Homo sapiens: one gene and its partners. The protein of the gene in region 6 interacts with the protein of the main gene of each other region in a pairwise test. Each region holds a gene or a part of one and is shown on either strand. Other genes may lie near its edges. The genes, in order: TXNDC9, ZXDC, OIP5, ERGIC1, LOXL4, KLF11 and KAZALD1.

What was found.
Region 1: the proteins of KLF11 (region 6) and TXNDC9 interact in binary tests that used the Homo sapiens proteins (3 or more experiments, as listed by UniProt).
Region 2: the proteins of KLF11 (region 6) and ZXDC interact in binary tests that used the Homo sapiens proteins (3 or more experiments, as listed by UniProt).
Region 3: the proteins of KLF11 (region 6) and OIP5 interact in binary tests that used the Homo sapiens proteins (3 or more experiments, as listed by UniProt).
Region 4: the proteins of KLF11 (region 6) and ERGIC1 interact in binary tests that used the Homo sapiens proteins (3 or more experiments, as listed by UniProt).
Region 5: the proteins of KLF11 (region 6) and LOXL4 interact in binary tests that used the Homo sapiens proteins (3 or more experiments, as listed by UniProt).
Region 7: the proteins of KLF11 (region 6) and KAZALD1 interact in binary tests that used the Homo sapiens proteins (3 or more experiments, as listed by UniProt).

Annotation. Positions count from the first base shown.
Region 1 is NC_000002.12:99,319,114-99,322,893, forward strand, and holds part of TXNDC9 (thioredoxin domain-containing protein 9), read right to left. Parts: intron 3,097-3,780; coding exon 2,842-3,096; intron 2,671-2,841; exon of another isoform or gene 2,013-2,670; intron 687-2,012; coding exon 569-686; 3' UTR 1-568. UniProt on the Homo sapiens protein: Significantly diminishes the chaperonin TCP1 complex ATPase activity, thus negatively impacts protein folding, including that of actin or tubulin.
Region 2 is NC_000003.12:126,462,204-126,465,983, forward strand, and holds part of ZXDC (zinc finger protein ZXDC), read right to left. Parts: intron 18-3,780; coding exon 1-17. UniProt on the Homo sapiens protein: Cooperates with CIITA to promote transcription of MHC class I and MHC class II genes.
Region 3 is NC_000015.10:41,315,364-41,319,143, forward strand, and holds part of OIP5 (protein Mis18-beta), read right to left. Parts: intron 1-3,780. UniProt on the Homo sapiens protein: Required for recruitment of CENPA to centromeres and normal chromosome segregation during mitosis.
Region 4 is NC_000005.10:172,924,636-172,928,415, reverse strand, and holds part of ERGIC1 (endoplasmic reticulum-Golgi intermediate compartment protein 1), read right to left. Parts: intron 1,908-3,780; coding exon 1,847-1,907; intron 1-1,846. UniProt on the Homo sapiens protein: Possible role in transport between endoplasmic reticulum and Golgi.
Region 5 is NC_000010.11:98,265,131-98,269,686, forward strand, and holds the start of LOXL4 (lysyl oxidase homolog 4 precursor), read right to left. Parts: upstream 3,065-4,556; 5' UTR 3,002-3,064; intron 2,693-3,001; exon of another isoform or gene 2,501-2,692; intron 247-2,500; exon of another isoform or gene 1-246. UniProt on the Homo sapiens protein: Catalyzes the oxidative deamination of lysine and hydroxylysine residues in collagen and elastin, resulting in the formation of covalent cross-linkages, and the stabilization of collagen and elastin fibers.
Region 6 is NC_000002.12:10,046,398-10,050,177, reverse strand, and holds part of KLF11 (Krueppel-like factor 11), read right to left. Parts: coding exon 3,759-3,780; intron 2,529-3,758; coding exon 1,583-2,528; intron 1-1,582. UniProt on the Homo sapiens protein: Transcription factor. Activates the epsilon- and gamma-globin gene promoters and, to a much lower degree, the beta-globin gene and represses promoters containing SP1-like binding inhibiting cell growth.
Region 7 is NC_000010.11:101,060,780-101,065,059, forward strand, and holds the start of KAZALD1 (kazal-type serine protease inhibitor domain-containing protein 1 isoform a precursor), read left to right. Parts: upstream 1-1,209; 5' UTR 1,210-1,336; intron 1,337-1,762; 5' UTR 1,763-1,813; coding exon 1,814-2,324; intron 2,325-3,426; coding exon of another isoform or gene 3,427-3,481; coding exon 3,482-3,642; intron 3,643-3,721; coding exon 3,722-3,869; intron 3,870-4,046; coding exon 4,047-4,141; 3' UTR 4,142-4,280. UniProt on the Homo sapiens protein: Involved in the proliferation of osteoblasts during bone formation and bone regeneration. Promotes matrix assembly.

The DNA of each region.
Region 1 (3,780 bases), about 89 Mb from region 6:
TCTTAAAATACAAGCAATCAGGACCCTTTAAATAAGGCAGTATGTTCACAAATCAAAATAGCTTTCTGCTGGCATCAGTTGATTCAACATCAACATGCAGTGTCCAGAATGAATAAGCAGTTCTTTAATGGTTATTTAAATATATTCCAGAAGAGCGTTTATAATTCATTTACAAGTGCAGTATTGCGCTAGTAAATGTTACTTGACCTCTTGTATAAATAATGCCGATTAAGAATTAGTCCTGGAATAGTTTTCGAATTTCTAACTCTGTAGATCTAAAACACAATTGTAAATGGTATAAAGATGTAAGAATCATATTGTGATAAAGTCAATCTCAAAAATAGAGAATCCAGACCCTTCCCAGATAATTTAAGAACTGAGTTTTCCTCAACTTAAACATGATGGCCACACAGAAAACAGTAAAGACACTTTTCGATGTGATACAACTGTATAAAACTCGAGAATATGAGTATTTAGGTGACCAATGTATAGACATTAATAGAATTTTAAAAACACATTTAAATCTGAAGCAGAAAAAAAAAGACAATTTACAAAGAATTATTGAGCTCTAATCATCATCAGAGTCTGAATCATATTTCTTTCCTCGGATAGTTTTCTTTTCCAGCTTTGTGAAGTTTGTTCCAAATTTCTTTTGGTTCTGAAATGGTGGCTCCATTAAATTTCCACTTAAAAAAAAAAAAAAGCATTTTATTCTTTATGATTTAGTACTAGTATACTAAACTGCACAAAAATCTATCTTTGTTTTCTTCCTGTAACATAGAATAAAATTTCTTTAAAATGCTGGTGTCAGGGAAGAGGTATAATGCTTATATTGATATTGATGGTTAATAGCCTTAAACCTTATTGTGTCCTACTGAATGTTTTAGATCAATTTTATTTTCCTTTCTTTTTGAGACAGGGTCTCACTCTGTGGCCCAGGCTGATGTGCAGTGGTGTGATCACAGCTCACTGCAACCTCCAGTTCCTGGGCTCAAGCGATCCTCCCACCTCAGCCTCCCGAGTAGCTTGGACTACAGGCGTGTGCCACCATGCTCAGTTAATTTTTACATTTTTTGTAGTGATGACATCTCACTACATTGCCCAGGCTTGTCTTGAACTCTTAGGCTCAAGCAATCCTCCTGCTTTGGCATCCCAAAGTGCTGGGATTATAGGTATGAGCCACTGCACCAGACCTATTTTCCTTTTTATCATTAATTATGGATTAACATTTGGTTAACACAGTGCTCAGTTGTCACCGGAAATGAGAGAAACCATCACACACCTCCCGATATGATGCATCACTTCCATAATATGCCCGTCAAAAATCGATAATCTGAATCTAATCTTGAGGAAATTTAAGACAAACCCAAACTGGGAGATGTTCTCCAAAATAAACAGTTTGTACTCTTCAAAAACATCAGTCTTAAGAACCAAAGAATAACAATGGTAACTAAAGACGTAATAACTAAATGTGCTGCATTTTTGGTATGAAGGACAATTATTGGGACAATGAGAAAACTTGAAATAAGAGCGGTAAATTACACAATAATTCCTGTTTCAATAATTGTACTGTCGCTACGTAAGAAAATGTTCTTGTTCTTAGAAAATATATATGGAAGTCTTTAGGAGTAAAGGGACACTGTATTCACAATTTCCACTCAAATGGTTCCCAAAATACTTCATAGTATCTATAAAGACAATGATAAAACAAATATAAAATGTTTAAAATTGGGTAATATGGGCAAAGGGTCAATGAGGATTCGTTGTACTAGTCTGCAGGGGGTTGTTTCTACTAGTTTTTTGTAGAGACGAGGTCTCATCTCACTATATGTTGCCCAAATTGGTCTCAAACTCCTGGCCTCAACTGATTCTCCCACCTCAGCCTCTCAAAGTCTGTAATCTTCTGAGATTACACAAGTGCCCCACCCGGCTGCAATTTGTTTAAGGCTTAAAATTACTTCAAAATATATAACTTTATTTAATAAATATTAATATTTTATGTTAATATTAAGGAAATGAAACCAATTTCTACAACATAGGAATGATTTCGGCATGTCTAGGAGAGTCAGAGAAAAGACGGGAGGGAAATGGGGGAGAAAGAAAAACGTGAGAGAACCTTCTACTTCCTGAAAGGCACCATGACTCTGGAATGGTAAGTGCACAATTTTACCTGTTACTTTTGCAAATCAAGAAAAGGCAAAAAAGACAAGATGATATGCTCTGATTTGTGGAATTAGATAAATTATTTGTCTGAAGAAGTGGACAAAGAAATGGAAGTTGGATTTTAGATTGTTTTCAAACTAAAACTGTTCTTCATAGCAAGCAATGTAAGCTAGGCATAGAAACCTTTTTCTATTCATCAGCCTCTATAAGTAAAACAGAAATATCCATGTTAAAAATCTAGTATTTTAAAATATAACTTTCTTTGCAAGAGTCTGCTTTTAATTTTTATTTTATCAAAGAGAATCACTTAAGTCAGAATTCATTTGAGCAATCTGGCTTAAATTGGGGAATAGTCAACACTGGATTGCCATTTTAAGTTTCCAGATTAATACAAAATTAGTGTCAATAGTATACGTTAAGCTGAAAACTTTTATAGTCAGGAGTACGGTGAGACTCAGTTTTACCTATTAAATCAGTTTAATCTGTAAATCTGATTTTGCCGTAAAATCACGCTAATATTACACACTTCAAAAAAACATGCTTTTCCTTTGAGAAACTTTCCACATCTCAGCCAAAATGCCTTAATTTCATAAAATAAATGTTACAATACAAAAATCTTTTGTAAAAATATCAACTATATATGAATTAAAATCAATCTCTTCTTTTGTTAAAAGTTACCTGTAATTAAGAATGTCAGAAGAACCGAGCCTCCATTCTAAAGTTTCTGTGGTGAAGTCATCTGTATTTCCTAGGTCAGTAAACCCAACAACATAATCTTGTGTTTTCCCATCTTTTAGCAGTGCTAGTGTGGGAATGACTTTGATATGCAGTCTCTCACAAAGGAAAGGTGCTTTTTCCACATTCAGCTTCAAAAATTTGGTCTCGAGGTGTTTCTTGGACAATATTGCCAGATGTCTGTCTAGTATTTTACACCTGTAAGTGACCACACATAGAAAATTATAAGCTAAAACCACAGATCGCTTTTTTCAAAATAAATATCATCAAGGGAAATCTAATTATGTAGTTTTTCTGTTGACTCTCATAACATGGCAGCCAACTTAAACTTGTGTCAGATGACCTCACTTCCAGATCAGAGGTTAGCTGCCTGATTACGAGATGGGAAAACAGCCTATAAGATTCTAGAAAGTCAGATTTGCATTAATGATATTCTCTTTTAAAATATTAAATATATGCTTTAAGTCATAAAGGAAGTTGTCCTATCTCCTACACAGGAAACTTGAAGAGGAACAAACTGAAACTTGACAAAACTCGGAAGAGACTTACAAGAATCAGAAGTGCACACATGGTGCCATATTTGGAAGTCATGAAGAAAAACTGAACAGCATTACCGAGGAAAAACTTCTTACTCCTAAATATGCAACGCTGTCAGTAAGAAGCACATTAAGGCTAAGGGTTACTAATAATATTTAAATAAATGTGGCCATTATGCTTCTAGGAAATTAAAAAATACCAGTAGTAACTTTTTTATTTTTTATTTTTTTGGAGGTGGCGTATTGCCCTGTCCCCCAGGCTGGAGTGCAGTGGCACAAGCTCGGCTCACTGCAAGCTCCGCCTCCCTGGTTCATGCCATTCTCCTGCCTCAGCCTCCCAAGTAGC
Region 2 (3,780 bases), on a different chromosome or scaffold from region 6:
TAGCTGAGGTAAGAGATCTGAAAAAAAAAGGAATACACTCTGGTTACTTTATGACCTTGAAGACTGAGTACTTTTGTTTATGCCCATGATGTTACCGAGTGATGCCCCAAGGAAGCACTGACTGTCCTCTTCCCACACCCTGAAGCTTGGTTATCACGACAGAGTCCCATGGCCGGTCGCTCAGGGCAACCGACACACACCCCAGGAAGGGACAGGAAGGGACACTGGCTGAAATCAGACACTTTACGTACGCGTCTTGGATCCTCAGGCTGACAGGGCTTTCTCCAGGGGAAACAACTGGAGAGAGATTAAATAACATTTCCTAAGGTCAGGCCAACTGGTAACAGCAAGAAGCAAAGTAAGACTTGCATCCATGTCTTTCTGGCTTCAAAGCCTGCACCCTCTCCCCTCTAGGTGCCACCGGAGCTGCCCGAGAGGACTGAACCTTTCCACTCAGCTGCCAGTTGCTAGCTGGCCTGTGCTCTGAGGATATTTTCCGAATCAGCTTGTCAGCTCATGTTTGCCAAACTCTGTGCTCCACTCCACAACTAGCTGCCACCCCAAAACCGACTGGAGCCATATAGGGGTGAACAAAGGAAATAAAACTGGCTGCCTGGCAAAGCCAGGACAGACCCAAAGCTTCAGCTCTAGGCAGATGCACAAGACTTCCAGGCATGCTGGGGGCCCCCTAGACGGAGCTTTTCCTGATGGGCTTTCCCTCCCACAGCCTCCCCTACCACTGCATCTCCAGCCTCACATTTCCCCAGCAGGACTGCAAGCCTCCTGAGGGTGGAGAGCCATCTGACCACCACTGTCCCCTCAGCCCCCAGCACAGTGCCCAGCCCTGATGCAGCATGTAATTATTATTATTATTATTTTTTTTGAGAGGGAGTCTCGCTCTGTCGCCCAGGCTGGAGTGCAGTGGCGCGATCTCGGCTCACTGCAAGCTCCGCCTCCCGGGTTCACCCCGTTCTCTTGCCTCAGCTCCCCGAGTAACTGGGACTACAGGCACCCGCCACTATGCCCGGCTAATTTTTTTGTGTTTTTAGTAGAGACGGGGTTTCACCGCATTAGCCAGGATGGTCTCGATCTCCTGACCTCGTGATCGGCCCGCCTGGGCCTCCCAAAGTGCTGGGATTACAGGTATGAGCCACCACGCCTGCAGCATGTCATGATTCTAACAGGCCCTTCTTCATCTGGAGTCTTAATTTCTGGTCATAATACTCTTTAAATATTTGATTATTTGTTATTCAACTACGTAATTTAAATAATCAGCATACTTTTGGGGGAATAATGACTTCCAAAAAATTTTAATGCATAGGCAAGTTTAGGGTTTGTATACAAGTACATGCCAATTACACCAAATCACAGGATGCTTCAAGCATCAAGCAAACAGTAAAATGGGAGCATAATTAATTTGGGCAAAAGAGCCAAATAAGGACTTGATGTCACGCTTTCCATAGGACTGTCCCCAGCAGCTTCCTGACTGTGCCAGCACCTGGCCCAGAGGAAAAGCTGCTCTCGGTTCTCTGATCCTATTTCTCCCATGCCAGCTGTTACTGTTCCCAAGCTCATACCTGCAGGCTGTGAACACCTGGCCAGAATGTCTATTATATTTTATATTTTTAATAATGCAAATCTACAAAAGAAGTCTATTCTAGACAAAAAGAAAATCAAATTCAGAATGTATCCTCTTTAGTTGTCATATTACTTTAAAGATTAAAAAAAGTATCAATATAGTATCACTTCTTCAATAAATATCCCTTAGTACCAATGAAGCATTTTGAAAGAAAATGGTAGTGATCCTTTGGAGAAATTAAAAATGGAAAACTATGTCAGTTTTTCAAAACTTCCTAAAAATTCCCTTGACTCTCTTGAGGACTCAGCTCCCTGTGAAGAGATCATGAATAATCTCAGTGCAAATGATACCCACTTATTAATAAATTTCTTACTTAGCACTTTACTAATTCTATAAACATTTACTACCAGAGACCAGACATGTACAAGGGCCAGATATTAACACAATCACTAAATAAACATTAGATAGCAGAGCATCTGGCAAAACAGTCATGATCACCACAGTTCAAAGCCCAGCCCCAGCCCTTCTTGCAGGTGTGACCCTGGCAAGTCCTTTCTATCTTGGTTTCATCAGTGACAAAGCAGTGAGGAACCCACTCCCAGGACCACCATTAGGGGGACTGAAACAACCCATTGAGGGCGTGACATAATCCCACGGTAACTGGGTGTTCTCGAGTGCCTGTTTTTCACTAGACGAAAGGGTGACACCTGGTCTTCTACCCCTGACAGCTGGCAGGGGGATGACACACAAATAAGTCATTGTCACACAGGAAATTCAATCCTGGGATACATAGGTTGCTACAGAAGAGGGTCTCACATCCCACTAGAGTTTAAGGAAAGTGCATCTAGTATAACACTGGGCCTCTGCAGACTTCTCAATTGGCCAGGTCAGGAAAGGGGAAGTGTGCCATGAGAGGGAACGGCCAAACAGGGGAGAGGCCTAAGTGATGTAGTCTCACAGAGCCCTCAGAGAAAAGGGGCCTGGTCATGTGGGCCTCTGTGAGCAAAGGTGACACCCTCCAACATGAATCAGGTGGCACGCACATTCCGTGTCCTCAAGACACTACTAAAGCCAGAAGGGCAATTTATTTAAATATAAAGCTGAACGGCAACTGCTGTAAACTGTGAAAGATCAGTGTCCAAGATCCCAAGGAGGGGCTTCATGACCACTTCTAAATAGGATCACAAGAAAGCAAAGGCCACAGAACTGCCCTGAGCCCAACCCCTCACCAAACTCTGTGCGAGGCATGGAGGCCTGTCCCTTGCCAACGCGGCAGCTGTGACACAGCTGCGCCCCAAAGCCGGTGCTCTGCTGTGGTGCTGCTGGTCACACAGGAGACGTGAGGACCCAGTTGGTGACACACACAGCCTCCACGGACTGAGCAGCAGAAGTAACTCTAGGGCCAGCTAGGATGCCATCAGCCAGGCCCGGTGAGGAGCGACAACCGCACCAGGGCCCAGAGAATAGGGCACATGGGTGTGCTCCCCAGAGGGGCCGCCACCACAGCTGCCAGGCACTTCTGTATCCTGGACTGTGGAGAAGGCCTAGTGGGGTAGGTTTCCTAGTCCCATGCTGCAAAGCTGCCCAATGACTAGGCACTCACACACTCAGCATTCCCCTCACAGGTCACCAGGCCACCGTCACTTTCCTCTCTAACCCTGCCCTCTCCAGCCCTCGTTACTCCCAGTCCACTCCTGAAACACAACTCTGCTCTAGCCTTTGTTACTTGGAGATAGAATAGCTGAGGCAGACGGAAACACAGGAGGGGCAGGTTCAGAATTCAGGACAAAAGTCCCAGTGAGAGACACAGGCTTAGGGGACATATGCTAGGGAAAGTCAACAAAGTGAAACATTCTTCCAGGAAAGCATTTCAAAGACATGGGAGGGGCAGGGCATGGTGGCTCATGCCTGTAATCCCAGCACTTTGGGAGGCTGAGGTGGGCAGACTGCTTAAGGCCAGCAGTTCAAAACCAGCCTGAGCAACATAGTGAAACCCTGTCTCTATAAAAAATGCAAAAATTAGCTGGGCATGGTGGTGGATGCCTGTGGGCTCAGCTACTCTGGAGACTGGGGTGGGAGGATCACTTGAGCAGGAGCCTGAGGTTGCAGTGAGCCATGATCACACCACTGCACTCCAGTCAGGGTGACAGAGAGGGACCCTGTCTCAAAAAACAAAAGACATGGGAGGGATTAGAGGGTCA
Region 3 (3,780 bases), on a different chromosome or scaffold from region 6:
GGTTGCAATGAGCTGAGATCACACCACTGTGTTCCAACTTGGGTGACAGAGCAAGACTCTGTCTCAAAAAAAAAAAAAAAATTTATGCTGATGAAAAGGGGGAATTTTCTTGTGTTCCCATACTCTCCATATCCTTTTCCTTCATGTTTAGGATGCTATCATCAATAGATGTAATGACTGTAATTGCAGCAGCCATCCCGAATCCAAGAGGAAAAGGCCAAAGTTTCTACTTAATCAAAAAGAATGTCCTGACCTTTTATCCAACTCATTTTAAAGATTAAGAAATTAACCAAAATCCCATAATGCTTTTCAAATTTATGTTAAAAATATGTTACTAAAAGCTTACTGCCCTAACAAAAATGCAATTATTGCTTCTCTAGAACATTTACTTTTGTACTGATTTCTAAAAAAGATGTGGGATTACTAACAGCACACATTTACAGTTTTTTTTCCCACTTTAAAGTTAATTCTAAATAGAAATTGCTTAAGAATCTAGAAATTGGTGGCGCAGTGGCTCACACCTGTAATCCCAGCACTTTAGGTGGCCAAGGCAGGAGATCAAGACCATGCTGGCTAACACGGTAAAACCCCGTCTCTACTAAAAATACAAAAAAATTAGCCAGACATGGTGGCGGGCGCCTGTAGTCCCAGCTACTCGGGAGGCTGAGGCAGGACAATGGCGTGAACCTGGGAGGCGGAGCTTGCAGTGAGCCGAGATGGTGCCACTGCACTCCAGCTCCAGCCTGGGCGAAAGAGCAAGACTCCGTCTCAAAGAAAAAAAAAAAGAATCTAAAAATTGAGGCTGGGCATGGTGATTAATGCCTGTAATCTTAACATTTTGGGAAGCCCAGGCAGGAGAATCACTTGAACCCAGGAGGTGCAGGTTGCAGTGAGCTGAGATCATGCCATTGCACTTCCAGCCTGGGTGACAGAGTGAGACTCCGTCTTTAAAAAAAGAGAATGATCAATCCATCTCAGGATCTCAGGTATATATTTTGTGTTGGAAATTTGCAATGAAGAACAAATGGTATACCTAATGCACAGTGAGCAACCCATGGTAAAGGACTGGCTGATAAGTTTTATTGTTTAGTCAACCATAACTCAGCTAAAAACATCTATCTAAGCATAAGAAATGAGAAAAAGCGGCCGGGCGCGGTGGCTCATGCCTGTAATCCCAGCACCTTAGGAGGCCAAGGCGGGCGGATCACGAGGTCAAGGAGATCGAGACCATCCTGGCTAACACAGTGAAACCCCGTCTCTACTAAAAATACAAAAAATTAGCCAAGCGTGGTGGTGGGCGCCTGTAGTTCCAGCTACTTGGGAGGCTGAGGCAGGAGAATGGTGTGAACCCAGGGGGTGAAGCTTACAGTGAACCAAGATCACGTCACTGCACTCCAGCCTGGGCGCCACAGCAAGACTCCATCTCAAAAAAAAAAAAAAAAAAAAAGACATGAGAAAAAGGAAACCTTTTAGTTTTATGAAAGGAAAATAAGCTTTTGAGTTAAGACATGCTCAAATCTCAGCTCTTCCACCTCTTTGAGCCCTAGTTTTCTTAAACTATATTAAGAACTCAGTGATATAAGCATAATGCCTACATAAACTAGGTTGTCAATGCTTGTTTTTGTTTTTTAATGGTCAAGGAAAGACTTCTAAGGATGTTTCAGTTTCTTGTAATAAGTAAAAAAGCTTAAGTTAAAAGTGCAATTTATTAGGAAAATAATGAAATAGCCAATGTAATTCATGAGAAAGGATAACCAGTAGGGTAGTTTTTCTGACACTATGAGGCTACATGATCATTATTTTTACTTTTCTCTGTGTCTGCTTCATGTTTTACTGCAGAGAAGACTTCCCTGCAGCTACATGCATCACATGGGAAATAGCTATCCCATACATAGAGCTTTCACTTCCAAACTTCAACACTAGTACTATCTACACGTAACTGGTATTTCTGGGCCCTTGTTTCAAATTCCTAAGGTAGAAAACTGGTTGGCTTAGTTTGGGTCAGGTATCCATTTTTCTTTTTTTTTTTTTTTTTGAGACAGAGTCTCGCTCTGTTGCCAGGCTGGAGTGCAGTGGCGCGATCTTGGTTCACTGCAACCTCTGACTCCCCGGTTCAAGTGATTCTCCTGCCTCAGCCTCCCAAGTAGCTAGGATTACAGGCATGCGCCACCATGCCCAGCTAATTTTTTTTGTATTTTTAGTAGAGACGGGGTTTCCCATGTTGGCCAGGATGATCTCGATCTCCTGACCTCATGATCTGCCCACCTCGGCCTCCCAAAGTACTGGGGTTACAGGCGTGAGCTACCACGCCCAGCACCGTTTTTGGTTTTTAAGAGACAGGGTCTTGCTCTGCTCCCCATGCTAGAATACAGTGACACAATCATAGCTCACTGTAACCTTGAACTCCTGGGCTGTAGCTATCCTCCCACCTTAGCCTCCAGAGTAGCTAGGACTACAGGCATACACCACCATACACAGTTAATATTTTAAATTTTTTGTAGAGACAGAGTCTTGCTATGTTGCCTAGGCTGGTCTCAAACTCCTAAGCTCAAACAATCCTCCAACTCAGCCTTCCAAAGTGCTGAGATTACAGGCATGACCCACCATGCCTGGCCAGGTATTCATTCTTGATCCAGTACCTGGGAGTGGGAATCACACATGATACAAATCACACATGATACAAATATACAAGGCCCCACCTATTAGAGGGAGAGAGAGGCTGGGCACAAACCCAAAAGGTATCTACTGCAACATTATTTTGCAAAAGCTTGCCTTCTAGAATGTTCTTTTTATCTTTTATTTATTTTTATTTTTTCTGAGACAGAGTCTAGCTCTGTCACCCAGGCTGAAGTGCAGTGGCTTGATCTTGGCTCACTGCAACCTCCGCCTCCTGGGTTCAAGCAATTCTTCTGCCTCACCTCCCGAGTAGCTGCGACCACAGGCGTGTGCCACCACACTTGGCTTATTTTCGTATTTTAAATGGAGATGGGGTTCCACCATGTTGGCCAAGCTGGTCTCGAACTCCTGACCTCAGGTGAACCCCCGACCTCAGCCTCCCAAAGTGCTGGGATTACAGGCGTGAGCCACTGCACCCGGCCCATAAGGGAGCAGTTTGAGATGGGAGGCTTCACCATGTTGCCTAGGCTGGTCTCAAACACCAAGATTCAAGTGATCCTCCTGCCTCAGCCTCCTGGGTAGCTAGAATTACAGGCACACACCACCACATCTGGCAACAAGTTTCTTTAATGAAAGAATACCCTCTGAATTTTCCCATGGTATGACTTTTAAGATATGGTATGATAAGACATGGAAGATAATCATAATGTTATAAGATTATATTTTGGTCCCACTGCTTTTTTTTTTTTTTGTCACCCAAAGTGGAATGCAGTGGTATGATCACAGCAAAATGTAACCTTGAACTCCTGGGCTCAGGTGATCCTCCCACCTCAGCCTCCCAAGTAACTGGGACTATAGGGGCACGCCGCCACATCCAGCTAATTTTTTAAAATTTTGTATAAAAAAAAAACAGGAGTCTCACTATATTGCCCATGGAGGTCTTGAACTCCTGCCCTCAAGCAGTCCTCCCACCTTGGCCTCACAAAGCATTGGCATTACAGGCGCGAGCCATCACACCTGGCCCACTGCTATCTTTTTGTCAAAGACAGTGCCTGACTTTAGCATCTTTTTGGTACAAACACTTTGTCTTTTTTCTTTTTTTTTTTTTTGAGACAGAGTCTTGTTCTGTCACCCAGGCTGGAGTGTAGTGGTGCAATCTCAGCT
Region 4 (3,780 bases), on a different chromosome or scaffold from region 6:
CATAGCAAGACCTGGGCACAGAGGGACCTACAAAGGCAACGGCCCAGTGCCAGGGACTGAGCTTGGGAGCTGAGGAAATAAAAGCCAGCCCTTCCCCAGCTGTCCATTGCTTGATCTCATGCTTTTTTCTCTCCACTTGAGCCAGCCTGAGATAGCTTTCGCCACTAGCCCTGGAGAAGGCAAGGTTTTCTGTCCACACCCTCTCTCTGCTTGCACACTCTGGGCCTTCTTAGCTTGATCCTCTTTCCTGTCCAGCAGCTGAGGGTCCATCGTAGCTGCAGACATTTGTGGACGGCCGACGTCGGATGACATGTTACCATGACACAAAACGACAATGACCACGGCACCACACCAAGAATCATCTACCTCTATTACAACCAGACATTTGCACTCAAATAAGGAGGTGCTGCCGTATACTTATCCGTTGCTGGAGGCAGCATGAATGGGAACCAGACACAGCTGGAAAGCAATCGGGTAACAGAGCGCCAACCCTGTACATATCAGAGGCATTATTGCCACAGTGAAACACAGGAAACGACAGACACTTTCGGTGAGAAGACAATGACTTAGAAAAGCAGAGCAGAGTGGGGACAGATCACCTGAGGTCAGGAGTTCAAGACCAGCCTGGCCAACGTGGTGAAACCCTGTCTCAACTAAAAATACAGAAAATTAGCTGGGCATTGTGGCAGGCACCTGTAATCCCAGCTGCTCGGGAGACTGAGACAGGAGAATTGCTTGAACCCGGGAGGCTGAGGTTGCAGTGAGCCGAGACTGTGCCACTGCACTCCAGCCTGGGTGACACAGTAAGACTCCGTCTCAAAAAAAAAAAAAAAAAAGCACAGCAGAGCTGCAAGATGGACAACTGTGCTCCCATTACAACTGGAAAGTAAGAAAATCGTGGCTATGTAATAAGGTCAAGTACAAAAAGCAGACGGTAAACTGCAATCCATGCCTTGGAAAAAAAGAAAAGTGAGTTCTGCTTATGGACAAGGACTCACAGGGACACAGAAAAATGAGGTTCGATTTGTCGGGGGGGCAGGTCACAGAGGGATGTTTTCTTTGCCTTGGATCCCTGACAATGGGAGAGCAAACGCATTTCAGGAAATAATAAGAAAAGATGTGGGTTAAAAGGTGAGCTCAGGTGAGGAAATAAGAAAAATCCAGGTACCCTGTGCAGCAGTGGGTCTGCAGGTCTGCTTGAGCACACAGGCCTCCCGGGCCCATTCTGTGCACGTGTCTGGGGCCATGTGAGCTCATGTGTGTTGGTGTGCACGAAAGGTATGCGTGCTCTCCTGTCTGCGTGTGGAGATGTGCGGTTCTCTTTGATCTGGGCCAAGGTGCCAGGGAGCTAAGGAGGGCGAGGACTCTAGGAGGAGCCACTATCGATGGGAGGAGTCTGAGCAGGAGGAGAGTGAGGTGTGGGGGAGGCAGCCATGTGGTCACAGCTGACTGGGCCACCCACAGACCTGTTCTCACGGTGCGACCTGGAGGCAGAACAGATCCTGGTTCTGCCATAGCTCCCTGTGGGATCTTAGGTAATTAGTTCAACTAAGGATGATGATGTGGCTGTGATGAGAGCAACAATAATGGTAATAGCTGGTATCCACTGCGTGCGTGCGTCTGCTGTGCCCCGGGACAAGCCTTCTTCCTTCTCCATCAGGGTCTGGGTCTGGACGGGGCTGGGTCCACCTTCCCACTGGTTAGCTGTGGGAATGGAGTGTGAGCAGCAGCCTCCCTGCCTTGGAGTGGGTGCTGGACAGGCACCCCCACCTCTCTGCCCTCCCCCTCCCTGCCTGCTGTACTGGGCATCTTGGAGCAGAAGGCTGTTCCCAGCAGGGATACATACGGTTGGAGGTGAGTCTGTCTGCTCCCCCGAGAGCATTGAAAGCTCCGTGGATGTTCTGGACCTGTGGAAAAATGCAGTGAGGGGATGGTCCCCAGGACACCTCCACCTCCAGGCCTGGCCCTGGTTGTGGGGGATGGCCAGGTACCACCTGGTCTAGGAACCCTACCAATGTGTAAAAGGGGGCTCCAGCGGATTTGTGGGGAGCAAGAGGCAGCAGGGGCCTGGCACATAGTAGGCACAAGCTTGTTTCCCATCTCTAGCCCCTACTATGTGCTGCTCCATCCTGGCCCCTTCATATAATTTCATTTCATGCCCCTAATGATGTATTATTGGGCCCATTTTACAGAAGAGCAAATCAAGGCTTGGAAAGACACCAAAACTTGCCCGGCTGGTAAGTGGCTAAGCTAAACTCTGAAATCAGGTCTGTCTGACACTAAGCTGGACTCTTTCCATGAAGTCACACAGAAAATTCAAGTGAACATGGATTCTGGGTCCCAGAAAGTTTCTCCTGAGATCCCAGGGTCCTCTGAAAGGCCCATAGAGGAGTCCAGGCAGGGATGCCCCAGAGCTGTGGGCCCCCCATCATGTCTGCTGCAGAGAACGTATAGCAGATGTGAAGAAAACCCTCCTCCGGGCAGTGGGGTGGGCTGCTGTAGAGTAGGGCTGAAAACCACATCTCACCTTTTCTCTGAGGACAATGGGAAACCAGGTTGGCCTCAAGGAACATCTAAAGAAGGACAAGGCATACCTGGTAAATGGAGCATGCTACCATGGGCATGGTTAACAGGGGTTATCGAGCTAGACACCCTGGAGGCCTTCCTGGAGGAAATGACATTGACACCAAGATCTGGAGGAAAGTGGGAAGTTAAACTGGCAAGCAGCATGTACAAAGGCTTAAGTATGGAGACAGGCCCACGTGGCCCCCAGGAGGAAGGAGAGTGAGGTGTTTGAATAGAAGGAAGGAGGAGACATCGGAGAGGTACGTGGGGACATGATTCTGTGGCCACTCCAGGAGCAGTGGGCAGCAGCGGGGTGGCATAATCCCTGATCCTGGTCTCAGGCGGCTGATGTTTACTGAGCACTTAACACACCTGCATGTTCTCAACAAGCAATTCCTCAACAACTGGAAGGAACTGCAATTTCTCAACAAGGAAAAGGAAGTTTGTCTATTTGCTGTCTTGAGACTGACCGTGTGAAGGCTTCATTTCTAACCCATGAGAACGGTGGTTACAGAGACAAGAAGGCTAGAATGTTCTCTTCCATTGTCATGTGACATGGCTTTATCTCACATTTATTTGTACCATTTATTTTTATTTTTATTTTTTCTTTTTTTGGGAGGAGTCTTACTCTTTCTCCCAGGCTGGAGTGCAGTGGCATGATACCAGCTCACTGCAATCTCCACCTCCCAGGTTCAAGTGATTCTCCTGCCTCAGCCTCCTGAGTAGCTGGGATCACAGGTGCCTGCCACCACGCCCGGCTAATTTTTGTATTTTTAGTAGAGACAGAGTTTCACCATGTTGGCAAGGCTGGTCTCAAACTTCTGACCTCAAGCAGTTCGCCCGCTTCAGCCTCCCAAAGTGCTGGGATTACAGGAGTGAGCCACCGCACCTGGCCTGTACCATTATTTGATCAACATCTGTCTTCCCCCCTAGACTGGAAGCTCCAGGTGGGCAGGGACCATGTTTGTCCTCACCAAGGTATGCAAGGCCTGGACACGGTAGGTACTTTGTAAATATTTGTTGACTAGATGGATGGACAGAAAATGAATGGATGGATGGGCCCTAAGCTAAGTTCTGTACATTTTTTTAAAAAAATCAGATTTCCACCCCACTAATGACTAAACTTGGGACTGTAGTTTCTGTGTCCTTCTGTTTTGCCCCTGCACGTGGCAATGCGAGACCGCTGCTCCTCTCCCCTCCACCTGCCTCGGTCTG
Region 5 (4,556 bases), on a different chromosome or scaffold from region 6:
TGGGAGGTGGCAGCACAGTGCTTGAGAGCACAGGCTGGGCGGTCAGACTGCTGGGGTTCGAATCCTGCCTCCACCAGTTCATTTGGAAGTGATCTTGGGCCAGCGATTTAGTTTCTCCCTGCCTCAGTGTCTCCCTCTGTAAAGTGGGGATAATAATAGTAACTACCTCATAGGATTTTTGTAAAGATTAAGTGAAGAAACATTAAATCCTTAGAAGAGCAAGCCTTCAGTAACAATGAACTATTATTATTATTATTATTATTATTATTATTATTATTATTATTATTTTTGAGACAGATTTTTGCTCTTGTCACCCAGGCTGGAGTGCAATGGCACAAACTCGACTCACTGCAACCTCCGCCTCCAGGGTTCAAGTGATTATCTTGCCTTAGCCTCCCAAGTAGCTGGGATTACAGGCATGCGCCAACATGCCCAGCTAATTTATCTGTATTTTTAGTAGAGACAGGGTTTCACCACATCAGTTCTTGAACTCCTGACCTCAGGTGATCCACCCGCCTTGGCCTCCCAAAGTGACGGGATTACCAGCGTGAGCCACTACATCGGCCAACAATGAACTATTATTAACAGCTACTGTGACAGCGACGATAGAACCGTTGGTCTAGATTGGTCCCACCTCCTCTCTGTACAAAGAAGGAAATGGAGGCCACGTCCGATCTCAACTGCAAGTCCTTGGTACTCCTCTTTGCAGCCTTCTCTAGATTTGCCCCTTTTCCCTCCACCCACACTGCAGAGCCTAGATGCTCCCCTCTCCACTCCCTGAGGCTGTGCAGGGGCTGCCTTCCCATTCTCACCTCTGCAGCTCTCCCCCTCTGACCCCTCCCACGCTTCCTTTCCAGACTGAAACACTGTCTTCTGCATGTCACTCAGAGGCTTGTGGGGGCTCCCAGCTGGCTGTCCCATGAGCAGAGTGCTCTCCATTGTTTCCCATTCCCTCCTCCGTGCTCCCTGGAGTAGGAGGTAGACAGCCAGGGACTGAGCCAAACCACTCCCCAGATGGCAAGAAAGGATGGGACAGATCGGCCTCAGGTCCCTCAGCTATTAGGACCCAGTGGTCACATGGGTCTGGGCTGAGTGACAACCACACCTTCTCTACCACCCCCAGGAGTTGGAATGCTTCTATCTCTGCCGCCAAATTGTGTCTGGAGTCAAATATTTTCCTTTCTCTGAGTCTCAGCTGAAAAACCTGTAAAATGAGGGGGTGGCACTAGACAGCCCCCCTATCCGACATGCTCTGATGGGGCCCAGGGTAGGCTGGGCAGGTCTGCTGTTTGGCTCCTGGCTGAAGTCCCTGACACACTGAGGAGGTCTTGTTACAGGCTGTGGACAGTCCCAGGCCAGCAGCTCCTTCCTCTCCAAGGGACCAACCTGAGGGCATGGGAGGGCTTCTGCTGTAGGACCCTGGGGTCTGGGCCAGGGAAGCTCCCTTCCATGAACGCTGCTGGAAGGTGGGGGGACGGCAGCGGGAACCAAGAGTTAGATGCAGGGAGAGTCCCTCTTATTGGCCTTCCTGCCCACTATAGGCCCCCGAGAGCTTTTGCTCACACCAGACTATAGCCTTCGTCTCCCAGCCTCCAAGCCTTTGCTCTCACTGTTCCTTTCCCTCTATCTAAGACTGTTAAACTCCTACACATCCCACAAGGCCAGCTCAAATGCCACCCCCTCCATTAAGCCCTCCCACAAAGCCTTCCACAAAGCACATTGTGTGTTTGCTTCCTGACCCCACAACCAGACTCCACCTGTCTGTTCCCCTAGCACTGAGCACAGAGGACCAAGCTGTGCATCCTCCCTCAGAGAAGGAAGCGGCCTCGAAAGTGGCCGTTACTTTCCCAAATAAAGGAGAAGGGGACAGAAGAGGGAAGGAAGGTGGAAGGGAAAGAGGAGGGGAGGGAAGTGAGGATAATAACTATACATTTTAAAATACGGATTAAATACTTATCTCCATTTTACAGATGAGAAGGTAAGGTCCAGGGAAGTCAAGTAACTTGCCCAGCCAGGATTCAAACCCAAGCAGCCTGGCTAGACGCCGGACTCTCAAAACCACCAAGAATGGATGTTGGAAGAGGGGGAGGAGGAAAGGAAGGCCGGGAGCCGACTGAAATTCCACCCTGTTCTGGTGGATTTATGACCCAGGCCGTGGTGTGAGGGCACTGGGCAGGGTGCTCTTCGCTGAATGCCGAGTGACAGATCCAAGATCTTGCCAGCTTGAGGCACAGAGGCACCTGCTCCAGGTGTGCCAGGAGATGCTGGGACCTGGCCTGACCTAGCGCAGGTAGGGAGGGCTGAAGACAGCAAATGCCCGAGTATTCAAGAGAGAGCATGGGGGGTGCTGTCCTGAGGGTGCAGCAACTTTAGGATGGCTCATCCCTTCTCTGCCGTTGGGCAGCTCTTCTCAGCAGCCTCCTCTCAGCCCTGTAGCCTCCCCGGGGTTACTGACTCTGTGGACCTGAAGCAGTGCCAACAAATGGTCTCTGAGCTGTACCTGTCCAGGCTAGGAAAGAGGGGGCTTGAAGTCTTCTGCCCCCTTCCCTTCGGTGTTTCTGTCACACGCCGACCCCCCAACATAATCAGCTCCGGTCTGGATAGTTGGAGAGCCCAGATCAGCCCTGGTTCGTTGTCCCCCAAGTCGTAAGTGTGACATCTGAACCCGCCTTGCCCCTTCCCTGTCTCCTCCCTGGAAGAAGGCAGAGCAATGGTTACACACGGCGTGTACACAAACAAGACACGCAGGCACCCCTGAGGCCTGGGCGCACCACTCAGGGCGGGCCTTGGGCCAAGCTCCCCAGCGTGGTCACTTGTCCAGTTGGAAGCAGGTTGGTGAGCGACTGGAGGGCCGGGCTGAGGGTCCAAGGGATCCCCCATGCACCCTAGGCCCAGTCTCCAGGAACCCTCAGAGGCCTGCAGACTCACAGAGAGACAGAAGGACAGATGGGACAGCAAGAGGCAGACCAAGAGGCAGACGCGCGGCCAGGCGGGGGCTCACCAGATGGAGCGCGGACAGTCCGGGGCTGGGCGGGCGCCGCGGCGGAGCAGCGCTAACGGGCTCCCTCCCCGGGCGCCCTGGGGCCTTTTTATCCGCCTCCCGCCCGCGGCCCCCCAGCCCCGAGCTGGCCGCGGAGGAGGCCCCGCAGGCCCCGCCCCGGGCGGGCCTGGAGTCCGCGGGCGCCCCGCCCGGCCTTCCGCGCGGCGCCCCCCGTCGGGACACAGGCCAGGTGGCGGGGGCGCCCAGCCGCAGCCGGCGGGGCCGGGAAGTCCCGGGGGGCGGGGGGAGCGGGGGGGCGGCGGGGGGTCGCGGGGAGCGGAGCTCTCGGGAAAGGGCGGCGCTGGGCCCGCGGCTGTTTTGCAGGGAGGGCCGCGGCGGCCTCGGGAGTCCCTCTCCCAGGCAGTTTCCTCTTTTGCAGAACAAGGTAATGACGCCCACCTAGAGTCCCAGTCTGTGAGTCCTGGTGGGTGCCAGGGCCCCCGGCACAGCACCCTTCGCACGGGAGCGCCCGGCTGTCACAGGGGCCGAATCTCACGAGCTCGGTCACTTAGGACAATGTAGACGCCCTTTCTGGGAGGCCGGGGCTCAGTTCAGAGAGGTCGAGGTGGCGCGGTGCAGCGGTGCTCTCCTGCAGGAACAGGCGAGTCACCCAGAGTTTACTGAATACCGCCCCCCCCCCCCCCCCCGCCCTCCGTGTGAAACTCTGCGCTGCCCATTGTGCAGCTGGGAACACTGAGCCCCAGGCGACATAACTTGCTCCTCCAGGCAATACACAGTGAATGGGAGAACCCCTTCACAGAGCTGAATGATGCAGTCCTGGCCCTTGTCAGACTCACGGGAGGAGGGTGTTAGTGCAGGGAGCAGGGACTGTAGAATTAAAGAAATGTGGACATGGCTGACAGAGAGGAGTCCCATCAGCTGAACTGAGCACCTAGGTGCCTGAACCCCAGTCCAAGCCCCCAGTTTCTTTCCCCTAGACCTGGTCCTGCCCTTAGCCTCACTGGCCCCATCTGTAAAATGGGCAGAGGGTTCCAGCCTCCCGGTTTCCTCCCTAGGCCCACAGCTGCCCAACCTGGTTCCCCCTCTTGCCCCCACCTTGCCTAAACGTCCTTCCAAAGGTTCATTCATCCCACAAGCCTTTATTGATTTTCTCCTACATGCTAGACAGGGTGCTGGAGTGCTAGACGCTGGAGGGGGCCTTCCCAGTCTGGTGGGGGAGGCAGATGTGCAAGTAAGAATAAGCCTGGACAGGCAGAGTGTGATAGAGCTAGGATGTCAAGATGGACCTTTTCGATCCTGGGTGACAGCCAGGTCTTAATGACCCTGCTGCCAGGGACCTGCCATCCACTCCTGGCTGCCCGTGTCCAAGATGTCCCCCCAGTGCCCCTGCCCCACCCCAGCTGGGCCCAAAACATTCCCCATGATGAATCAGCAGGAAAGAATGCTCCCAGCCTCGGGTCAGTGGCAGCAGCCCAGCTCCTCCCCCAGGGACAATGAGGCAGCTGTGGGCTTGGGTGCCAGGTATGCCTAAGCCCTCTCCTAGGGCCCAGCCACC
Region 6 (3,780 bases):
CTTGGCCTCCCAAAGTGCTGGGATGACAGGCGTGAGCCCCTGTACAAGGCCTGTTATTGAATTGGAAGTACTTTAGGAAACATGGAAGCAACTTGTTTCAATCACTGCAGGTCATTCTGTCAGTACTTCTACCAAGGTAAACCAAATAAACGGTAAAACTTCATTCAGTCACCTCCAACATTTGGAAGCTGTGCTCTGGTGTAATGCAAAGTTCCCCTGGAGAGTCCCGGTGAAATGCAGAGCTCACCAAGTCAACAAGCCCATTAAAAGAGGCAGGCAGGTCAATTCCCCTCAGAAACACCCGTTCCCTGACACAGCCCCACGTCCATCTGCCATGCAAACAACCAACCCTCATTTACTGACTAGTGTCAGGCCCTTTTATCAAGCACCAGGAATATATCCAGGTGAGATATACAACTAACTAAAAAACAAAGGGAGACTATAGTAAGACCTACAATAAACCACTAGGGTCAAAGAAGGAAGATAAAGAAACAATCTAATAACTAATCCTAGGAAGGCCCTCAGAGGGTTTCAGTAAGTAGAGATGGGCAGAGGGCCAAGAGGGAAGGGTGGAAATATGGAACCAGACATAGAATGTTGGGGAGACTGTTTCTGAATGGGCAGAGGTGAGTACCTCATGGGCCAAGTTTGGCTTTATCCTCAAAGCAAGCAGCCACTCAGTAGAATGGAGTAGTAGAGTTCCTCTTATAATGTCTGAACACCAGACTGCACTTTATTCTACACGTGGAGGCTACCACGATCAGAGCAACAGAACACAAACTCACAGAACACCTGAGAAATGGTGCCCTCACCTACTGAAGCGATTGTCTATCCAGCAACACTCAGACCACTGCTGCGCAGCAGGGCAGCCACAGGTCCCATGGAGCTATTTAAACTTCAAATACTAAAAAATGTAAAATTCAGTTCCTCAGGCACACTAGCCACACACTTCAAGTGTGAGCAGCCAGTGGCTACCCTAATGGACAGACAACAAACATTTCCACCATTGCAAAAAATTATATTGGACAGAGCTGGTTAGACAACAGAGAGATCATTAGGTCAGCATAGTTTCTTGTGTGACTTACTTTAAATTAAAAACTACTCTCAGAGGTAAGAAAACTATACTCTTTTAAAAAATATTTTAGAATTTGAACTTTTCTATAGTTTGGCCAGACCTTTTCTCACATAAACATAAGTCACACTGGTAAGATACATTTACTAAATGTGAATGAATGCATGTTTTCTTTAAAAAAAAAAAAAAAAAAAAAAGGATGAAACGTCTACTGCAATGTGAACAGAAGGGGGCACTGTAAGTCACTCTAAAAGCTACCAAAAGACACAATCACAGAACTATACTACATTTTATCTTCCAGGGCGAGCGCTCTGTAGGCAAAATCCTGATGGCTGTGCAAACAATCCCACCCTTACAAGGTTGTGCGGGCTTTTCAGAACCAAAGAAAAAGCCACACTTCCACCTTCGCCAGGGGTTCTCATGATCCCCTCCCAGCCAAAGGCGGCTCAAGGTGTGCTTCCTAACCACAGGGTCTGGTGTGCCCAATGCCCCACCTGCCCCAGCGCTTACCTGTGTGAGTGCGAAGATGGGCCTTAAGGTGGGAACTTTTGAAGTAGGTCTTCCGGCAACCTGGGAAGCTGCATACATAGTTCCTCCTTCGGGAAAAGTCTACCTGAGGGACACAGTTTTGGCTAGAGGTGATGAACACTGGAGCAGGGGCAAGGGGCAACAACTTGGTATTCCCGGCAGCCATGACATTGGCTGCACAGGGGGCAGGCGGAGGGAGGGCTCCCTGGGGCAGGACCAACATCACAGCTCCCTGAGGCACAGCAGGTCCCACGAACACAGGTTGAGGCGCTGGAGCAGCCTGAGCTAGGATGGGTCTCACAGTCCCCACAGACAACTGGGGAGGGGGCTTCAAAAAAGCTGGTAACATGCTACTTTGTCCAGTCACAGGGATCATCTGGCAAAGGACAGGGGGAGCAGGGACAGAGACAGAAATCAGAGGGGTGGTTTTCCTGGGCAGGTCATTTTCATAATTCTTTGGTGAGCAAGTCTGAACTGCACCAGGCCACCCTGCCTGCTGGCCTTTGTCAGTGAGCAGCAGGCCACCAGACTTGTGCAAGCAGGGCTGACAGGACACCAAGTTAGTGCTGAGTAAACTGTCCGTGAGGTGTGTGTCCTGCAAAGTTTCAAAGTGTCCCAGAAGCTGCTCTTCTCCTTCTCTGCTGTCAGAAAGCCGGCAATCTGGAGTCTGGATGGTGGGAAAGCAGGCAGCAGGGCTCTCCCCAGTGTGTCGGATCACGCTAGTCCCCTTGGCCCTGCAGGGAGAGCTGGGCACTGGCTCCAAACCCAGCAAGCCCCTCTCCGCGCCCCCGCTCAGAGCTCTGGCCACTACGGCAGAGGACTGGAGAACATCCGTGGCTGTACATGCTTTGGAATCTGTTACTTGGGGAGAAACAGGTGTCCTTGTCGATGGCTCCACGAGATCAGGGCTCTGAGGAGGAGTTATGCACTAAAAAAAAAAGTACCATGTTAAAAGGTTGCTTTAAATTTTAAAAGGGATTTAATTCATCACAATGCTCCCAATACCTTTACACAGAATCATCTAGACACTCAGTTAACCCTGTTTTCAACATCCCAGTGGGTTTCAAGGCTGCATGAGGCACTCTGCTTTCTCAGCTTATTCCCAACGTGTTTACCTCTCCCAAACCTACACAAGAGCCCAGTGCAGGGAACTCTGAGAGGAGCTCCTGGCCGCCAGGCCCACCACTTCTGCAACCCTCCCGACAACCCACAGGCCCTTCCTATCCCTCTCCAAATCTGCTTTCTACACTCTTCTTTCAGAGCAAGCTTCCAGCCCAGGACAATCACAATTTCCACTTCTGTTAGCAACCTACAGTTCTCAGCTTCTCCAAGCTGAGATGCAATTTTTCCAAGTACTTTCACAGATGTAGCAAATTAAAAAAACAAAAAGCAAGAGTGACTTACTGCACCCAACTCACAGAACTCACATTAAGGAGTCGGCTGCCACGGGAGGGCAGAGGTGCCACCCAACGAAGGCAATCTGATGTCAAAGTACATGCTTTCTCCAGCTGCTACCGATATATTCTGACACTAGGCTGGAGAACCTAAGCTCCACCCCGAGATTCCCCTGGGGAAGTAAATTTCACTTTCTCACATTAATCTGTAGGTTTCATCCCACGGACATTAACCACGTAGCTAGCAAGGTATGATCCATCCATAGAAAGAGCACATTTTTCAGAAATGAAAGAAAAGTTTCTTTTTTTGTTCTTTTATTTTTTTTTGAGATGGGGTCTCGCGCTCTGTTGCCCAGGCTGGAGTGCAGTGGCACGATCTCGGCTCACTGCAACCTCCGCCTCCCGGGTTCAAGCGATTCTCCTACCTCAGACTCCTGAATAGCTGGGACTACAGGCGCCCGCCACCACACCCGGATAAATTTTGTACTTTTAGTAGAGATGAGGTTTCACCATGTTGGTCTGGCTGGTCTCGAACTCCTGACCTTGTGATCTGCCTGCCTGGCCCTCCCAAAGTGCTGGGATTACAGGCTTGAGCCACCATGCCTGGCCAAAGGAAGAGTTTCTACTCCTTCAGACCCACACAGAGAGGATACGCAACTTATTTGCCAGCATCCCAGGGAATCTTCTCACAAGTTCTTCAACACACTGAGTTCAGCTACTCTAGTCATTTCACAAAAACGCTCCTCCCTCCCACCTCCTCTTACCAGAGTCGATAAAGAATGGAAG
Region 7 (4,280 bases), on a different chromosome or scaffold from region 6:
GCGACAGTTGCGAGGCCTCGCGTGAAGTTCCCTTCTAGTCCCTATTTCGAATTTGAGACCGGGAGAGAGTGTCTGCCCTTGCCCACCTCCTCAGAACCCCTCTGGCCAGGGATGGCGCCTACGTGGCTCGGGAGCCCCTGAATGAATGGGCTTGGCCCAACTTAGGGGCGCATTCCGACGGGAGAGTCCTGGCTGTATTCCGAGGCTCCAGTGCGCATGCGGAGTCGATCCCGCGCAGGCGGGCGGGGACGGCAGCCGGGTCTTGTGGGCGGAGCCTGACTAAGTGCCGCCCCCTTGCCGGCTGCAGATTGCTATTTCTGCCCCCCACCCTCGCCCATCCCCCCGCGAGCTGGACTGCGCCAAGGCTTCTGTGAGCCGCTTGGGGCCGGCCGGGGCGGGGCCTGCCCGACCCGGGTTTGGCTGGCGGGCCCCTAGGAATGCTCTCCTCCCCGCCCCCGGCCCAAAGTGCCACGGTGGCGGTGGTGGCGGCCGCGAGGCCGAGTGTCTCCGGCCCTGCCAGCCTCGCAACCGTAACCTGTAATCCCGACCCGAGGGACGCCCGCCGGGGAGGCGCCAGCCCGCCTCTCCCTGCGGCCGCTGGTCGGCTCCGACCTCGAATCACCCGGCTCACCCGCGGGTCGCAGCACCTGCCGGATGTGGGGAGGAAGAAGGAGGCCAGATGAGGGAAGGCGGATGTAGGCGCCCAGTCTGTCCGCGCCTTGGTGGGGCAGCTGGGTGGGCAAGCCTGCGGTCGCTCCCGGGAACCAGCCCTGGGCTGCGGGGAGACGAAGGTGGTTGGTCCTGCCCTCCAGGAGCGCCCCGACATCGACGTAAAATGACTTGGCACCAGAGCTCCTGCCGCCTCCCCCTTATGCAGCTGCCCTCGCCGACGCCAGGGACTGTAAAATCAGATGGGACAGGGCCTAGCCGTTCAGCCAACACTTTGAGCTTCCCAGCCAAACTCCTACCCCCACTCCCCGCCTCCGGTCCTCACCCCCTTCCTCTCTCCCAGCCTCGGTGTCTGGTTACGGCTCCTCTGCTCGCATTGTGACTTTGGGCCAGGCTGGGGGAAATGACCCGGGAGGGTCCCATGCGGCTACATAAAATTGGCAGCCTTAGAACTAGTGGGAAGGCGGGTGCGCGAAGTCGAGGGGCGGAGAGAGGGGGCCGGAGGAGCTGCTTTCTGAATCCAAGTTCGTGGGCTCTCTCAGAAGTCCTCAGGACGGAGCAGAGGTGGCCGGCGGGCCCGGCTGACTGCGCCTCTGCTTTCTTTCCATAACCTTTTCTTTCGGACTCGAATCACGGCTGCTGCGAAGGGTCTAGTTCCGGACACTAGGTGAGCACTCTGTGCCCCAGGCCATAAGCGAGGCGGCATCAGCCCCCCCAGTTCTCACCCCCCATTAGCAGCTTCTTACTTCTGGAGCCACCCATTCTCTTTGGGCAAGGATGCTCAGGGGCCAGGGATCGGAGTCGGGTGGTGCACGGAAGTGGTGCTGGTGGTGGGTGTGCGTGCGCCTGAGCCTTATCACCCTTTCCTCACCTCTCTTCACTCCCAGCCCTCCCAAGAACAGCCCAACTGATTGCTAACTGCCATAACTGGATAATCCCTAGAGGGTCACTAGGCCTGTGTGTTGGGGGAGGCTACTTGGTAGCAGGGGAGGGGGCGATGCTAGTGTCATGCTTTGGTACAAGAAGCAGTGAGGTTGGTCTTTCGGCACAGGCCCTGTTTCTGACCTCCTGACCTGGCTTCCCTTCCTGGCAGGGTGCCCGAACGCGCTGATGCCCCGAGTGCTCGCAGGGCTTCCCGCTAACCATGCTGCCGCCGCCGCGGCCCGCAGCTGCCTTGGCGCTGCCTGTGCTCCTGCTACTGCTGGTGGTGCTGACGCCGCCCCCGACCGGCGCAAGGCCATCCCCAGGCCCAGATTACCTGCGGCGCGGCTGGATGCGGCTGCTAGCGGAGGGCGAGGGCTGCGCTCCCTGCCGGCCAGAAGAGTGCGCCGCGCCGCGGGGCTGCCTGGCGGGCAGGGTGCGCGACGCGTGCGGCTGCTGCTGGGAATGCGCCAACCTCGAGGGCCAGCTCTGCGACCTGGACCCCAGTGCTCACTTCTACGGGCACTGCGGCGAGCAGCTTGAGTGCCGGCTGGACACAGGCGGCGACCTGAGCCGCGGAGAGGTGCCGGAACCTCTGTGTGCCTGTCGTTCGCAGAGTCCGCTCTGCGGGTCCGACGGTCACACCTACTCCCAGATCTGCCGCCTGCAGGAGGCGGCCCGCGCTCGGCCCGATGCCAACCTCACTGTGGCACACCCGGGGCCCTGCGAATCGGGTACGCATGGCCCGGGGCCCCCACCCCAGCACTTAGGTTTCCTAGAGGCACTGCTCCCCGACCCCTGACAGCATTGGTCTCTGGCCAGCAGAGCAAAAAAGATAAGGCTATAGAGGCCTCGAGTCCAGTATAAAACCCTGCTCTCGCTACTGGTTCATAAAAGCTGCCACCTTAAGGTGGGGGTGGGGGGTGGAGTGGAGTGGGAGTCCCGGGCTTCGTCAGCAAGCTGCATTCGCTGAACCACGTGAAAGCTCCAGAGCTGGCTGGCAGGGAGAGACAGGTCCTCTGAGGGCGCAGGCACATAACCTATGGTTTGCTCAGAGACCCCCCCGACTTTTCCCAGACCAGTGGAGTCCAGGCAGCAAGACGGGTTCCTGTGAGATGCAATCACGTTTCATTCTTAGAGCAGTTTGTTCACCCAGTCTCCCCACCTCTCTGCTTTCTCCTGCTTTTAGGGATTAGTGAAGGGGAGCGGGAAGTTCTTTCTCTATCCCTGGGGACTGGGGTCCATTCAGGCCTCTAGCTTTCCTTGGTAGCTTTAGTAACTTTCACTTCCTGAGCCCGGGCTCTGCGTCTGGCTCGGCTGGGGCAGCCAGAAAACAAACACCCCGTGGGGGTCCCAGCAATTTCCTCCACTCCTGCAGGCTTCCTGCCTGTCGCACAAGTCCAGCTTCAGGTTCTCTGCCTTGCCGCAGGACTCCCCCAGGGGGTACTGAGGAGGGAACGGCTGCTTTTCCTCCTTTGGGAACTGGGCCTGTTTAGAAAAGGGGAAGGGGGATCTGGAAGGTTTTGATTACAGGCACGCAGGAAAGGCTGGGGAGGGTGAAATGAGGACAGGGGAGCAGTTAGGGACAGAGTGGCTGCCAAGCTACAATGTAGATGTGTGTGCTTGTTTGTGCATTGGGTCTGCATGAGGTTCTATGTGCACATGTGCATGTATACCTATCTCCACGTCTGCGTGGTACCCTTGTGTGTACCAGCATCCATATCTGTGTGTACCTGTGTGTGTCACGGTGTGTTTATGGATGTGTATTTACCTCAGCATATATTGTGTTCTGCCACAAGCATGTCCACAAAAATTTGTGTATCATGTCTTTGCCAGACTGGATGCCTTTGCTGGGCCATGCTATTCTCAGACCTCCCGCCTTCACCCCCAGGGCCCCAGATCGTGTCACATCCATATGACACTTGGAATGTGACAGGGCAGGATGTGATCTTTGGCTGTGAAGTGTTTGCCTACCCCATGGCCTCCATCGAGTGGAGGAAGGATGGCTTGGACATCCAGCTGCCAGGGGATGACCCCCACATCTCTGTGCAGGTAGACTGGTGGGAGAGGCTTCCCTCAGGCAGCCCAGGGCCCTCCAGAAGGACCCTGCTGATTCCTTGCCTGGCTCCAGTTTAGGGGTGGACCCCAGAGGTTTGAGGTGACTGGCTGGCTGCAGATCCAGGCTGTGCGTCCCAGTGATGAGGGCACTTACCGCTGCCTTGGCCGCAATGCCCTGGGTCAAGTGGAGGCCCCTGCTAGCTTGACAGTGCTCACACCTGGTAAGGGGATTCCTGAGTTCTGGGGGTTGGGGGGATGGTGCTGGATTCCAGTTGTGAATGTGTAAGAAACAGACCATGTGTCTGTATACACAAGCATAGCCTTCCGCAGACTGGGCTATGTGGGCACCGACAGCCCCTCTCTCCTGTTCTCTCTTCTTTGCCCATGTGTGTTTGCAGACCAGCTGAACTCTACAGGCATCCCCCAGCTGCGATCACTAAACCTGGTTCCTGAGGAGGAGGCTGAGAGTGAAGAGAATGACGATTACTACTAGGTCCAGAGCTCTGGCCCATGGGGGTGGGTGAGCGGCTATAGTGTTCATCCCTGCTCTTGAAAAGACCTGGAAAGGGGAGCAGGGTCCCTTCATCGACTGCTTTCATGCTGTCAGTAGGGATGATCATGGGAGGCCTATT